Regions from separate parts of the Homo sapiens genome. Here region 2 is linked to region 1. Evidence: fine-mapped expression QTL. Tissue or cell type: whole blood. Region 1 holds a variant in brackets; the other region holds the start of a gene. All regions are shown on one strand. Distances are from middle to middle.

Region 1 (8,262 bases):
CAAAATAAAAAACCTGAACAATGATTCTACCACATGATGTGGTGGTATTCGGCACAGTAGGGATTCTTTTGGCCAAGAAGAAACAAAAGAGGCAATGGGAAGCGACTAAGTTAGGCCCTTAGGGAGGGTAGAATTGGGCAAATGAGGCTGGTTCAATGACTTTTCTTTCTTTCTTTTTGAGACGGAGTCTCCCTCTGTTGCCCAGGCTGGAGTGCAGTGGCGCAATCTCGGCTCACTGCAACTTCCACCTCCCGAGTTCACGCCATTCTCCTGTCTCAGCCTCCCGAGTAGCTGGGATCACAGGTGCCCACCACCACGCTTGGCCAATTTTCTTGTATATTTAGTAGAGATGGGGTTTCACCATGCTGGCCACGCTGGTCTTGAACTCCTGACCTCATGATCCACCCACCTCAACCTCCCAAAGTGTTAGGATTACAGGGGTGAGCCACTGCGCCCAGTGAAAGTAGGGGCTTCTAAGACACTGTCAAAGAAAAGTCACTGAGGCCTGGCGCAGTGGCTCACACCTGTAATCCCAGCACTTTGGGAGGTGAGGCGGGCAGATCACCTGAGGTCAGGAGTTTGAGACCAGCTTGGCCAACACGGTGAAACCCTGTCTCTACTAAAAATACAAAAAATTGGCCGGGTGTGGTGGCACACGCCTGTAATCCCAGATACTCGGGAGGCCGCGGCAGGAGAACTGCTTGAATCTGGGAGGTGGAGGTTGCAGTGAGCCGAGATTGTGCCACTGCACTCCAGCCTGGGCAACACAGCGAGACTCCATCTCAAAAAAAAAAAAAAAAAAAAGAAGAAGCCCCTACTTTCTACATCTACTAAATCCAAAACCAATTTCCATGCCTTGGACAGAATCCCATTAAGTCGTGTATTTTGACTGTTGTGACAGAACCTTGTGTTTTACCCTTGTTTCCTAGCTTGGCTGGCTAGTCCTTTTGAACCAAAAGGAAAAGAGGAGATACTTTAATACTATGACGTATGGTTAAGTAATTCTGCTGAACCGGAAGTTAGGGAAAAAGTTACAGAGGAGGCTGAATCTACTTTTAACTAAGAAAAACTATGAAAATCTCAGCAGAGATAGATTTTAAAGTATAAAATAAGTTACTATTTGCATTGGTCACAAGTCTATCTTCTACCCATTTTTTGCTTTTTTTTTTTGTGGGGGCAGCATTTCAAATTAAGTTGCAGACATCAGTATCATTAGTGTGGTTTTAAGAACAGATCCATCTAGTCCAAAAAAAGGAAAAAAAAAAAAGCGGGGGGCGGGGGGTTGGAGGGCATTGGGGAGGGGACACCACAGAAACTTTGTGACCTGAGACCAGATCACTCAGCTTGCCCCTTTGGAATGACAGTCAATCCTCAGTGCTCAGAGGGCCACAACCCAATATCACTCCCTTCCTCCCAGTCTGAGGGGAATGAAAACTAGATCTGTATCTGGAGAAGAATGGGGGCCCTTGTGACAGAAAATCAAATGGGAAAAATCAGGCGTGGAGCTTAGCAGTTGGGTGAGTGGGATTTATACCACTGCCCTGCCCTACCAGGGAACAGGAAAGTAATGATGTACCCTGATCCCACAAAGGCATAGAAACTGATCTAGGTGATCCAGGAAAGGCCAAGGAAAGCCTTCACTTTCACCTTCTCAGGGTACCAGCAGTTGCTGATGCTGTGGCGTAACATCACCTACTATAACACACAAGAACAAGATAGATGATGTCCTGACCTCCTCTAAGTCTCCTGGGGCTCAGCCAGAGTTGGGCTGAGCTGCAAAAACCCACAGCAGTCATTTATCACTACCCTCTGCTAAAGACCCAAGGCATCCTTTAACCACCATTTCACACAGTTTACACATAGTTATGTAACATGTAAAACCTTGAGTTCTTCAGCTAAGGAGCTGTTTACTTACCTTCAATAAAATGACAGATTCAGGAATGACGCCAAGGGTGCCTAGGGTGGCACAGTCATCACTTAAAATCTTTCCATCAATTGACAAATTCTGGTCAAAAGGAGCAACTGAAAATGCATGCATGATCTGTGCCAATATAAAAGAGAGAAAGTCCGTATAATGCAAAATACTAAGACTTATACCCTATTTAAATAAATTATGCATGGATTCTTAAAAAAAAAAAAAAGGCTTCAGAGTACAAAACCACTATTGTTTACAGTCAGCCTACTTGTTATACTCCTACTGAGGCTATCGTCCCTATATATCCGGGAACATCCTTAAGAGGTCTGGTAGAGTATTAGGAAACAATTACACATATAGATGCGTTTGTTCCTTACCTTACCAGCTTCCCAAGGATGGAGGTGTGGGGAAATAAAATGAATAAAAAGTGGGGCTGGGCTGATGGCTATTCTGAGGCTTGGGCAAGGTCATCACTGTCACCTCATCTTTCCCAGGCCCCATATCCTTTCATCAACAAGTCAAGTCCAAATTCTTTCTTTTTTCTTTTTCTTTTTTTTTTGTTGTTGTTGAGACAGGGTCTCACTCTGTCACCCAGGCTGGAGTGCAGTGGCGCGATCATGGCTCATTGCAGCCTTGAACTCCCAGGCTCAAGGGATCCTCCCACCTAAGGCTTCTGAGTGGCTGAGACTACAGATGTGTGCTACCATGTCTGGCGGATTTTTTATTTTTTATTTTTGTAGACATGAGGTCTTGCTATGTTGCCCAGGCTGGTCTCGAATTCTTAGACTCAAGCAATCCTCCCAGCTTAGCCTCCCGAAGTGCAGAGATTACAGGCATGAGCCACTGCATCTGGCCCAAAATTCTTTCTTAAAACCATCTTTAAATTCTCTCTTTTGTTCTTATTCCTTTAGCAAATGGCCTGGGGTATGTAATTCAGCCTTTGGAACTGTCACATATTCTTAGACTGAGTTTTGTCTCTAGGAAGCAAAATATGAATTTCTGAAGGGTAGGGACCATATGCCCCACCCCAGTTCTGGCCAAGTGTTAAAAATTAAATACAGCCGGGTGCAGTGGCTCTCGCCTGTAATCCCAACACTTTGGGAGGCCGAGGTGGACGGATCACCTCACGTCAGGAGTTCGAGACCAGCCTGACCAACATGGTGAAACCCTGTCTCCACTAAAAATACAAAATTAGCTGAGTATGGTGGCACATGCCTGTAATCTCAGCTACTCGGGAGGCTGAGGCCAGAGAATTGCTTGAACCCAGGAGATGGAGGTTGTGGTGAGCTGAGACCACGCCATTGCACTCCAGCCTATACAACAAGAGCGAAACTCCCATCTC[CA/C]AAAAAAAAAAAAAAAAAAAAATTAAATACTTTCCAGATGAGTGTGGTGGCTCATGCTTGTAATACCAGCACTTTGAGAGGCTGAGGCAGGTGGATCACCTGAGGTCAGGAGTTCAAGACCAGCCTGGCCATCATGGCAAAACCCTATCTCTACTAAAAATACAAAAATTTAGCTGGGAATAGTGCCATGCACCTGTGATCTTAGCTACTTGGGAGGCTGAGGGAGGAGAATCACTTGAACCCAGGAAGCAGAAGTTGCAGTAAGCCGAGATTGCGCCACTGCACTCCAGTCTGGGCGAAAGAGCAAGACACTATCTCAAAAATAAATCATACATACATTCCAAAATACTGGTATACATAATATTTAAATGTTTTTACAAATTCAGAAAGGTTTGTTTTTTAAATTTTATCATTTCTGGGTCATGTTTACCTCTGGAGGGCAAGAAGAAGTTGGGCTCAGACAGGCAAACACAGGTAACCTTCAATGACACTGTTTTAATTCTTAACTCGGTAGACAAGTTCAAGAATATTCATATTAGTATGCTTTTTAACTTACCCATAAAATGCATGCTATTACATGTATCTTATATTACACCAACACCCATGATGTCATGGGAAAACCATTCTGCCCTTTCCTGCACTCTATTCTTTGGATGTGGAAAGACAAAACGAGCCTCACAAATCAACCTTGAACTGTGTGTGTAACAGGGCCCAAGAGCTTGACAGGCCAGTGTGATGGGGACCAGAAAAGTGATTTTAATAATCGCACCAAAGACAAATAAGAACAAGGATAACAGCACTGGCCTCCTCCCTAACTGCTGGGACAGAATCTTACCTGGATTTTTCAAAAGAACATCAGCGCCTGAAAAGCAGGCAGGGATGGACTAGCCAGAGATCTGTGGCTAGCAATGAAAAGTGCACTGGCATCATCAATGGTCTTCATGAAGCAATAAGCAGGAGTACTGACAGGACAGTTCTATCCAAGCCAGCTCAGCATGCAAACATCAAGCAGAGGCATATCCAGCCCTACACCAGCAAATGTTCCGGAACCATGAAGATTGAGCAGAGCTACGGTGGATGTGTGTGATGCTAACTTAACATGGATAATGTCACAGCTGCTGGACTGTAAAAATGCTTGTTCATGCCCCTAAATGCTAAGTGTTTTTGTACTACCCTATGAAACTGGACAAACAGCAAATACCTCTAGACACAAGTGCCACAACTAAGGGGCTGACGTTCACACATTATATTCTGAGAACGGACAAGGGCACTGAGATGCTGTCAACAACTAATGAAGCATTTAATAAGAAGCTACCGTGTGTCAAGTACTGTTTTAGGTGTTGATAATATAAAAGTGAATAATCCCGCCCTAGAGGGGTTTCCAGGAGTGAGGTCAAAACAAAGTTGTGAGGATGGTAGCAGAAGGTATGTGCAGGATCTAGCGAGCACAGGGGGACAGTCAGTTCCATGAAAGGGGCCAAGACAGGTTTCACAGAAGGGTCAATATGAAAGATGAACACACGCTTCTAGAGAGAAGATGGAACAGGCCAACCAAGGCAGGGAGGCCTACGGTAAAATAATCCTTAAACTCTAAGTGCTAGGAGAATGCTTCAGTATAAAGAACACGATAGAGGTCTGCTTAACAAGTAGATGTGGCATTCCTGGTCTATGGAACTTAACAGGAACCATGAAAACCCTGTTGCTATCAGGGAGTGGCTCTCCTCTGCTTGCGATGCTGTGTGGGGCTGAAAAAAGAAAATATAGAAGCGATCGCCTCAGCTGCCAGCCATTTCACTTCTGTGCCAAAATATTCTACTTTCTCAGGCAGGCAATACCACCCACCCACTAAAGATCTATCTTTGGGAAAATGAAATAATACAACTAAACACTGCACATCTTTTGAGAAAGGAAATGAACAAATTGTACTTCATTAACCTCATGGGATCAAAGGTGGATGAATTACTGATTAGACACAGCAAGCTTTGTAATGTTTCAAGCAAACCTTACAAACTCTGATGCTATCCACACTGCCAGGCAAATAGGCTCACATCTAGTTGAAGCTTCACAAGCTCCCACCACTATGTAGTGAGGGGAAAGACCTTCTACTGCCTTTTCTTTGACTCTGTTTGGCCCGCAGTGGTCCCTGAAGCAAGAGTGGGAGATGAGACAGACATTCAGGAAGAGCACCTCTGGGGGCTGTGTGAACAGCTGCCATCTTCTAGCAGCTCATTCGGGCAGGTACATGCTCTCAGATGGAAGGGTTATTTCTGCTGACTTCTGGTTTATTCTTCAAAAATTGTAGTCCATAATAAAAGCAGCACAGGCTTTTAAAAATGTCTTTAGGCACAGGGGCTCTTTCTGTAATTTAAAGGTTTTGAATGTTCGAGGTTTCCCAATGACAGGCAGAAAGCCAGTGATAGAAACAAGGTTTCTTAGATGTAAAAGGTACAATAACAGAGTAAAGATATTATGCCAACACACTTATTTTCAGAGCCATGGGTTCAACCAAGGGAAATACTGTTGTCAGGACAATCTGGAATACATAACACCCTCAAAGGAAGGCCTGTACTTTTGCCTCAATTACAATGATAAATATCAGCAACAAGAAAAATGTGTAACCAGTAAACTATGCCACATAAAAGTAGCAAAGGAGGAAATTTGGTCAACTTTTTGGATATCTATCAGTGACTGAAACAGATTAGGGGCCAGAATTTTTTATGGACATCTTGAATTTATCAGTTCCTTCTGCCTAGGGTTTGAGATTTACCACTGGAATGCTTATTTATAGTACTTCAGTATTGATACCAAGAAATAACAGTATCATGAAACCATTTCATAATGCCTGCACTACAGCCGTGGAACTGATTTGTAAAGCAATGCATGCTTTGAGGGGGATGGAGAGGACATATCTAAAATAAATCTATATAACAATTTGGAAAACATCAAGGTAAAGATAATTTTAAAACTCTATCAAGGCCGGGCGCGGTGGCTCACGCCTGTAATCTCAGCACTTTGGGAGGCTGAGGCGGGTGGAAAACGAGGTAAGGAGTTCAAGACCAGCCTGGCCAAGATGGTGAAACCCTGTCTCTACTAAAAATACAAAAATTAGCTGGGTGTGGTGGCACGCACCTGTAATCCCAGCTACTCAGGAGGCTGAGGCAGAGAACTGCTTGAACCCGGTAGGCGGAGGTTGCAGTGAGCCAAGATGGCACCACTGCACTCCAGCCTGGGTGACAGAGTGAGGCTCTGTCTCACCAAAAAAAAAAAAAAAAAAAAAAAAAAAAAAAAAAACCCCCTCTATCTATCAAATAGATTTATCTGCCACCAAAAATACTGTGACAGCCTAGTGAATAAGCAATCACTAATCGCTAATAATAAGCTGCCTTTTATCTCCCATTAAATTTCACAGCAGTTCCTGGTAACAGCCTCCAATACCTATTAAGTGGTCAAAGAAAAGCATACAGCACAATAAAGTGAGAGAACAGTTATCCTGGCACAACCTCAACATGTGACAAATTAAGTGGTTCCCAGCGTTTCTCATTATTGGAAAGCTATTGCAGAACCAGCCCAAGTTTCCAGAACCCAAAATTCACTTTCATCTTCACAAAAAGATTTTTGGCTATTTTGAAAACTTTAAGTCTTCTGGAAAAAAACACAGATACATACATATATGTAAATACAGGTGGAAAGCAGGAATTCATAAAGGCCCTTTTAAGTCCAGAGCAAACTTGAACAAATGTTTCCCTCACCTGAATTTTCAATTCTTTTAACGTCTGATTAGCAGAAACGAGAAGTGCTTTCTCACCACGAACTTTTCTATGTCGCATACTTCGGCGAATAACTTGCTTTTGATAGGCTATATAATTTTGATGGGATATCTTTTGCCGCTTTGTTCCACCATTGCTCTATAATGAAGATTGGAAATGAAGAAAGCACTGAAATTAACCACAATGTGACCCTTGCTCATGAAGTTTTTCAGGTAAACAAAAGCTGTTTCCTTATTGGTCCCTTAACTATTTGAAATTCAATGTAAACAATGAGTAGAAACTAACGAGACTTTCTTAGCAGGCTCACATAAAATTGATAAAAGAAAATAATGAGTAATACACACCTCTAAGTGCATGTAAGCAGTTTAAATGTTTGTTACAAGAGACATTTAAGGTTTGGTGAGGAGGCTCCCACCTATAATCCCAGGAGTTCAAGACCAGCCTAGGCAACATATTAAGACCCATCTCAACCAAAAATTAGCCAGGCGTGGTGGCATGAGCCTGTAGTCCCAGCTACTTGGAGGCTGAGGCAGGAGGATCATTTGAGCCCAGTGGTTCCAGGCTGCAGTGAGCTACAATCGCACCACTGGACTCCAGTCTGCTGACAGAGTGAGACTCTGTCTCTTTTATAAAAAAGACCTTACATCAGAAAAACATAATAAACTGAAAATCTTGAGGATTACAAAACTTAGTTCATGAACAACCTGAATTTTAAACATTTTCTTCTCTTCTTGAGAATGACATGGAAACTAAGTATAAACTGTTGTGAATTTAAAAATAAAATATGGAACATTAATAAAAAAAAATCAAACTTAGTTTGACTAAAAACAAGACTTTACCACTTGTCCTAATGGCAAAATATACAGACTCACTCATAAAATATTCTTGCAAAAATGTTATACTGGAATGTAATCAAACATTTACGCCCACCTTTCAATTTACAGAAATTGGAATATAGGGGATATATAAATAAATTAAAATAAGTAACATAAAGAAGCAATCAGCCAAATACAGAACATGGAACAATCTAAAAGAAATCAAACTGGTCCAAGTTCAATGTCAAGAAGGCAAAGAGCCTGGCATGGTGGCTCACGCCTGTAATCCCAACACTCTGGGAGGCCGAAGTGGGCAGATCACCTGAGGTCAGGAGTTCGAGACCAGCCTGACTAAAATGGAGAAACCCCCCTCTCTACTAAAAATGCAAAATTAGCCGGGCATGGTGGCTCATGCCTGTAAT
Region 2 (8,000 bases), 91 kb after region 1:
TGCTCTATAACCAAGAGAAATAAAAATAAATGCCCACACAAAAACTACTACACTAATGTTCATAGCAACATTATAATAGCCAAAAAGTAGAAATGACCCAAATGTCTATCAGCAGATGAATGCAAATTAAAAATGTGGTAGATACAGAGATATGATGGCATATTATTGATCAATAAAAGGAAAAGAGGCAACGAGCACATGAAAAGACGCTGAACTCATTAGTCACTAGGAAAATGCAAATCAAAACTACAAAGATGCATCACTTCACACCCAAGTAGGAGGGCCTAACCAGAAAAACAGAAAATAGTACCTGTTTATGAGGATGATGAAGCATTTGAACCCTCATACATCACTGGTGGGAATGTAAATCGGTACAACCACTGTGGAAGTTTCGCGGTTCGGTTAAGTTAAACACAGAATTGACTGTGTATGACCCAGTAATTCCACTCCCAGGTAAAGAACTGAAATCAGATGTTCAGACCAAAACTTGTATGCAAATGTTCAGAGAAGTACTACTCAAAATAAGCAAAAGGTGGAAATAATCAAAATGTCCCTCAACTGATGAATAGATATATAAAATGTGGTATTATCCATAAAATGGAATACTACTCAGCCGTAAGGAATAAAGTAGTGACACATGCGCAGCAGGGATAACCCTTGGAAACATTACGTTAAGTGAAACCAGACACAAATGGCCACGTACTGTATAATTCCATTGCTATGAAATATTAATAGAGAAATCCAGAGACAGAAAGTAGATTAGCAGTTGCCAGGGGCTGGGCGAGGGGGGAAAATGGGAAGTGACTAACAGATGCTCAGTTTCCTTTTAGGATAATGAAAAGTTCTGGAACCAGACAGTGGTGATGGTTGTACAACACTATAAAGGTACTGAAACCCACCGAATTGTGCACTTTAAAATGGTAAACACTGTCATATGTATTTCCCAGGTATTTTTTTAATGAAATGAAGTGCTGAAACATGCTACAACATGGATGACCCTTAAATACATAAGTAAAGGAAATCAGTCACAAAAGTCCACGTATTTTAGGATTCCATTTATATGAAATGTCCAGAATAGGGAAATTTAGAGGCGGAACATACAGGGCATACAGAGCCAAGATAAGATAATTTTTTTTTTTTTTTTTTTTTTGAGACTGAGTCTCGCCCTGTTGCCCAAGCTGGAGTGCAGTGGCGTGATCTCGGCTCACCGCAACCTCCACCTCCCGGGTTCCAGGGTTCTCCTGCCTCAGCCACCCCAGTAGCTGGGATTACAGGCGCCCGCCACCACCCCCGGCTAATTTTTGTATTTTTAGTAGAGACGGGGTTTCACCATGCTGGCCAGGCTGGTCTCGAACTCCTGACCTCGTGATCCGCCCATCTCGGCCTCCCAAAGTGCTGGGATTACAGGCATGAGCCACCGCACCCGGCCTATTCTTTTTTCTTTTAAAATTTTTATTTTAAAAATTTATTTTTTTAAATTTATCCAGCGTCTCACGACGCTGTCTCGAAAAAAAAAAAAGTATCGGCCTGGCGGGCGGTGGCTCACGCCTGTAATGCCAGCACTTTGGGAGGCCAAGGCGGTCAAATTATCTGAGGTCAGGAGTTCGAGACCAGCCTGACCAACATGGAGAAACCCTGTCTCTACTAAAAATACAAAAAATAAAAATAATAAAAAAAAATTAGCCGGGCATGATGGTGCATGCCTGTAATCCCAGCTATTCAGGAGGCTGAGGCAGGAGAATCGCTTGAACCAAGGAGGCAGAGGTTGCAGTGAGCCGAGATCACGCCATTGCACTCTAGCCTGGGCAATAAGAGCGAAACACCGTCTCAATAAATAAATAAATATCAGAAATTGGCCCAGCATGGTGGCTCACGCCTGTAATCCCAGAAGAGGTGGGCAGATCGCTTGAGCCCAGAGCTCGAGACCAGCCTGGCCAACATGGCGAAAACCCGTCTCCACTAAAAATACAAAACTGAGTCGGGCGTGGTGGCCCGTGCCTCTAATCCCAGCTACTCCGGAGGCCGAGGTGGGAGGATCGCTTGAGCCTGGGAAACGGAGGTTGCAGTGAGCCGAGCTCGTGACACTGCACTCCAGCCTGTGTGACAGAGTGAGACCCTGTCTCAAAAACCACCAGAACTATTAGTAGTTTACATTATTTGGTTAGTCTGGAAACTAATTACGTTGAGAAACTGACTGAAGCTTGATTATTTCTATTATACACAGACTTCAAACATTCCAGAACTTACTGTTAAAGTCAGATTTACCCTCCTTGTGAGACAGACGCCCAGAGCTTGGACTTATTCGTTTGCTTTATAGAAACTCCCTAACTTATTTCACTTCTCATACTAGACTTTAAGCTCCAAAGCCAGAGACCATGACTTCCATTCCTTCCGGATCCCCCAGCGGAATGTAAAAACTCCAGAAAGCATTTCCTAAATGCCTGCCGAAAGACGGCTACTGAGCATGCCCGGCTTGGCCAAGTCAATTTCAACAACATTCTGAAACAAAAACTATAGTTCCCGCGTTACAAGGTGGAAAAAAGGGAATAAACGGGAGCAAAGCCTAAGGATTCAATCTATATGAGGGGGTTAAGGAAAGGTAAAGTTCAAGGGCGGCGCAGACGTGAAGGACAGCACTATCACAGCTTAAACTTGGTACTCGGTAAACTGGTGTCGAACCAGAACGACCAAAGAAAGGCTTAAAAAAAATACTAGATTAACGAGTGAGGGAAGGCCAACGGGGGTGCAGGGTATCGATGACGTAGGCTGACCACAGTTTTTTCTAAAGCTGCCCTCTACAAAAATAATACTAAGATGATCAGGCCTTCGGTGTCAACACCAACAAGATACACTGTGATGAAGCTCACTTCCAAAAAGTTCCTTTTTACAAACGAAAGAGCCGTGCTGTGGCCAAGATACCCCAACCATCAACGCTTGCTAAGCTCTCAGCTCCTGCCTTCATCTCCACCGCCATCTTCTGGATGGGAACCCAAACCTTCCTAAAGTGCTTTGGCCAGCATCACCTCCGCGCACAGCCCGGGAAGCCTGCGTTTCCCAGGTCGCGCAGACGGCGCAAAGGGGGAAACTCCACCTCGCTCGGCTCCGCGCCTCCCAAATGCACGCAAAGGGCTGCCGTCTTCCTTTCCCCTACCCCGCCCGGGCTTTCCAAGGTCCGGCGCGAGGAGCCCGCGAGGCGCGGTGCGCGGGCCTCACCTGCACACGCCGCGAATGCAGGGCTCCAGCCAGATGCGGTAAGCGGTCTCGATGTGCTCCTGCGACACCTCCTCGGGCCGCACCGTCTCCGCCCAGCGCCAGGCCGCCTTCTCCAGCTGCAGCCGCGGGGCCATGGCCTTGGCCCCAGGAACGCCTCCCGAGCCAGACCGCCGCAGCCGCCGCCGCGGTCTGCACCGCCGCCCCAATGGGCTTCGCCACCTGCCAGCAAGGAGGACCTGGCGCTCCTTCAGGCAGCTGGCCAGTCAATCACCTGTGCGCGCCACTGCCGCCGCGCCCGCCCGCGCCCGACCCGCACGACCGGCCGCAAAGCGCCGCCGTCGACACCCGACACACCCCGCGCCCGCGGACGTTAAAGGTGGACTCCCCGCCGCGCTGAGCGCATGCGCGTTCCCAGCAGCCTCTGCGCCTCCCGCGCCCCTAACCCGACGGGCTGAGGTAGAGGAAGCGTACGTCCGAGGCGGTCTTGCCACGTCCTCACTGGCACTTCTGGAAAAGCAGCGTCTCAGCCCCCGTTCAGGGCGGCGCACTACGTACCACTACTCTAACAAACCAGTGCCTCGAAAGCTATTTCTTGCCTCCGGTACTTCCCTTTTAACCATGAAGTTTTCACGCTAGAGGCTACTCAACGCACACACAGGCCCGCCCAGACTGTGGAGCGGGACCTGTTTAGAGTAGAAACCGAGTCGCCAAAGAAACCAGTGTTGGCTCTTTAGAGGGAGATTTAACTTGAGCCTAGACCGGTTCCGAACCCCTTTCCCGAGCCCTCCTGACGTCATGGGACCTTCCGGCCTTTTCCCGTGCTAGGGTGGGACTACGTGTCCCGGCATGCCCTGCGTCCTGCCACTGACTGTGAGGCATGCTGGGATTTGTAGTCTTCGAGGTGGGAGTGCTCAGTGCGCCGCAGACTGTGCGGGCGGGGGTCCGAGGTGCCAGGGTGGAGTTTCTCTGGTGCGCAAGGTCATGTTTGCTGTTGGCTCCCTTCTCAAGACTGTTACCTCTATGCCAGGATTTTCTAGTTCCTCTCTAGCTCCTGGTTTAAAACATTTCCTTTCTGCGACTCCTGCCCCAGGACATAAAGAGTAGCTTTATGAGAATTGTTTTGCAAACTGTAAAGAACTCTACTAAAGTGAGGATATTTAAGAATTTTGAATTTGAATTAGAGCTCTGCCAGAATCTAAGCGCTAACTTCTGACTCAGCTGCTTGCCTGCTGGAAAACCTTAGGCTGAATTCTTTAGATAAACATTCACTGGGCCGAGCACCGTGGCTCAAGGATCCAATCCCAGCACTTTGGGAGGCCGAGGTGGGCGGATCACCTGAGGTCAGGAGTTCGAGGCCAGCCTGACCAAAATGGAGAAACCCCGTCTCTACTAAAAATACAAAATTAGCAAGGCGCGGTCGCGCATGCCTGTAATCCCAGCTAGTCGGGAGGCAGAGGCAGGAGAATCGCTTGAACCCGGGAGGCGGAGGTTGTGGTTAGCCGAGATAACGCCATTGCACTCCAGCCTGGGCAACAAGAGTAAAACTCCGTCTCAAAAAAAACAAAAAAATTCGCTGAAGGCAGAAGAAAGTAAGATGTGGTCCCTGCCCTTGGAAGTGGGTTAGGGAGTGAGCGGTAGAAATACAAAGATCCCCATCCCAGTCTTGGGAGGCTTCGGGGTACTTGAGAAAAGGCTTCCCAGAAGTAATTCCGAAGCCCGCTTTTAACGGGTGAGTTGGACTTATCCAGGATAGAAGAAAGACACCATTCCAGAAAAAAAGAAACCACAAGGAGCAAAGGCACAGAAGAGAAAAGCTTGGCGTGAGAGGGCCACAATTTCTGAGACAGGGACAGGTGAGAGTTATGGCTTGAAAGGAAGACCTTGCCGCCGGGCGCGGTGGCTCACGCCTGTAATCCCAGCACTTTGGGAGGCCAAGGCGGGCGGATCACGAGATCAGGAGATCGAGACCATCCTGGCTAACACGGTGAAACCCCCTCTCTACTAAAAATACAAAAAAAATAGCCGGGCGTAGTGGCGGGCGCCTGTAGTCCCAGCTACTCTGGAGGCTGAGGCAGGAGAAGGGCGGGAACCCAGGAGGCGGAGCTTACAGTGAGCGGAGATCGCGCCACTGCCCTCCGGCCTGGGCGACTGAGCGAGACTCTGTCTCCAAAAAAAAAACAAAAACAAAACAAAACAACAATAACAACAACAATAAAACAACAATAACAACAAAAAAAAAAACAAAAAAAGGAAGACCTTTATTCAAAGTACCCACTGAAGATATACAGCTGTTGAGTGCTATAATGGAGATTTGCATTTTGTATAGTGAGGCAGAGAAGACTTTTTTTTTTCCTGAGACGGAGTTTTGCTCTTGTTGCCCAGGCTGGAGTGCAATGGTGTGGTCTGGGCTCACTGCAACCTCCGCCTCCTGGGTTCAAGCGATTCTCCTGCCTCAACCTCCCAAGTAGCTAGGATTACAGGCTTTTGCCACCACGCCCGCCTAATTTTTTTGTATTTTTTAGTAGAGACGGGGTTTCACTATGTTGGTCAGGCTGGTCTCGAACTCCGGACTTCAGGTGATCCGCCCACCTCGGCCTCTCAAAGTGCTGGGATTACAGGTGTGAGCTACCGCGCCTGGCCTCCTCCCCTTTTTAGACCATATAGGGTAACTTCCTGACTTTGCCATGGCATTTGTAACCTGTCATGCACTGGTGGGCATGTCTTTTAGCATGCTAATGTATAATAATTAGCGTATAATAATTAGCATATAATAAGCAGTGAGGACGACCAGAGGTCAGTCTCATGGCCATCTTGGTTTTGGTGGGTTTTAACCAGCTTCTTTACTGCATTCTGTTTTCTCAGCAATGTCTTTATGACCTGTATCTTGTGTAGACCTCCTATCTCATCCTGTGTCTAAGAATGCCTTAGGCCAGGCATGGTGGCTCATGCCTGTAATCCCAGCACTTTAGGAGGCCAAGGTGGGCGGATCACGAGGTCAGGAGTTCGAGATGAGCCTGGCCAACATAGTGAAACCCTGGGTCTACTAAAAATACAAAAATTAGCCAGGCATGGTGGCGGGCACCTGTAATCCCAGCTACTCAGGAGGCTGAGGCAGGACAATTGCTTGAACAGGAGGCGGAGGTTACAGTGAGCCAAGATCGTGGCATTGCACTCCATCCCAGGCGACGGTGGGAAACTCAGGCAAAAAAAATGTCTTCACCTCCTGGGAATGCAGCCCAGTAGGTCTCAGCCTTATTTTACCCAGCCCCCATTCAAGATAGAGTCACTCTGGTTCAAACGCCTTGGACAGAATGAGGACTTGCTACAGCTTGATGATGTTGACCTGACCGGTATATCTTCACCTTTCTGATATTTGACCTTCAAGTCTGGTCACACCCCTTTCCTCAGTATCCACAGCTCCCTGTGTCATCCCTTGCTTCACTTAGCACATGATGAAATTGTGACTATCATTCACCATGAAGACACTACTATATGGCAGTTTTCTAAATTGGATAATTAAATAGAATTTCTACCAAATGAGATAGCAACACCAGAAGAAGGAACAGATTTAGAAAGAAGATGATTTCGGCCAGGCACGGTAGCTCACGCCTGTAATCCAGCACTTTGGGAGGCCGAGGTGGACAGATCATCTGAGGTCAGGAGTTCGAGACCAGCTTGGGCAACATGGTGAAACCCTGTCTCTACAAAAATACAAAAATTTGCCAGGTGTGGTGGTAGGCACCTGTAGTCCCAGCTACTCAGAAGGCTGAAGTGGAGGGATTGCTTGAGCCCAGGAGGTCGAGGTTGCAGTGAGCAGAGATCTCACCACTGCACTCCAGTCTGGGCGACAGAGGGAGACCCTGTCTCAAAAACAAACAAACAAAACCCAAATGTGCTAATTTGCTGTAATTTCTCTGAAGTTTAACAAACCCTCTCTTGACTCCCACATCCCCCTCCAGCTACTGTCCCATTTCTCTTTTTCCCTTTATAGCAAAACTCCTGGAAAGCATTTTCTGTACTCTTCTCCAGTTCTCCTCCTATTCCTCCTTAAACCTCCCAAATCAGGTTCTTGCCTCTATCACCTCCAAAACTGCTCGTATGAAGAATGCCAATGGCCTTCACCTTGTTAAATGCAGTGGTAAACTCATACTCTATTTATTTTACTAGACCTGTTAGCAGCAATTGACCCAGTTATTCACTCTTTCCTCTTAGAAACACTTTCTTCTCTTAAATCACAGGGTGCCACACTCTCCTGGTTTTCTCTTTACTGCTGGCCATCCCTTCCGGTGTCCTTTGCAGCTTCTTTCTCCTCTAACCTGGAAACTTGAGTGGCCTAGGGTTCAGTCCTTTGGACCTCTCCTTTAACTTTGTTTACTCCCTGGGGGATCTTGTTAGAAATGCTTGTTCCCCAGTGCCGTAAAGAAGTAGCACTTACGGCCGGGCGCGGTGGCTCACACCTGTAATCCCAGCACTTTGGGAGGCCGAGGCAGGCAGATCATGAGGTCAAGAGATCAAGACCATCCTGGCCAACATGGTGAAACCCCGTCTCTACAAAAAATACAAAAAATTAGCTGGGCATGGTGGCACACGCCTGTAGTCCTAGCTACTCAGGAGGCTGAGGCAGGAGAATCGCTTGAACCTGGGAGGCAGCGGTTGCAGGGAGCCAAGATTGTGCCACTGCACTCCAGCCTGGCGACAGAGCGAGACTTCATCTAAAAAAAAAACAACAAAAAACAAATAGCACTTGAACATAAATTTAACATCCTCAGCAAGGCCATTTTTACTTT

Evidence for each region. PIP is the estimated chance that this variant, and not a neighbour inherited with it, causes the effect.
Region 2: it holds the start of USP48, and the variant in region 1 is fine-mapped to the expression of USP48 in whole blood (INTERVAL, PIP 0.98).

Annotation. Positions count from the first base shown.
Region 1 is chr1:21,688,059-21,696,320 of GRCh38, forward strand. It overlaps USP48 (ubiquitin specific peptidase 48), which reads right to left. Exons shown (of 27, transcript NM_032236.8): 23 at 7,008-7,163; 24 at 1,916-2,041. Among named protein-coding and RNA genes, the nearest start is that of RAP1GAP, 23 kb to the left of the region's middle. The variant CA/C (reference allele first, on the strand shown) is at 3,258.
Region 2 is chr1:21,779,611-21,787,610 of GRCh38, forward strand. It overlaps USP48 (ubiquitin specific peptidase 48), which reads right to left and starts at 3,539. Exons shown (of 27, transcript NM_032236.8): 1 at 3,214-3,539. The coding sequence starts at 3,347. RefSeq lists enhancers at 2,223-2,272, 2,585-3,356, 2,833-2,932, 3,357-4,127, 3,873-3,922 and silencers at 3,303-3,662, 6,050-6,224.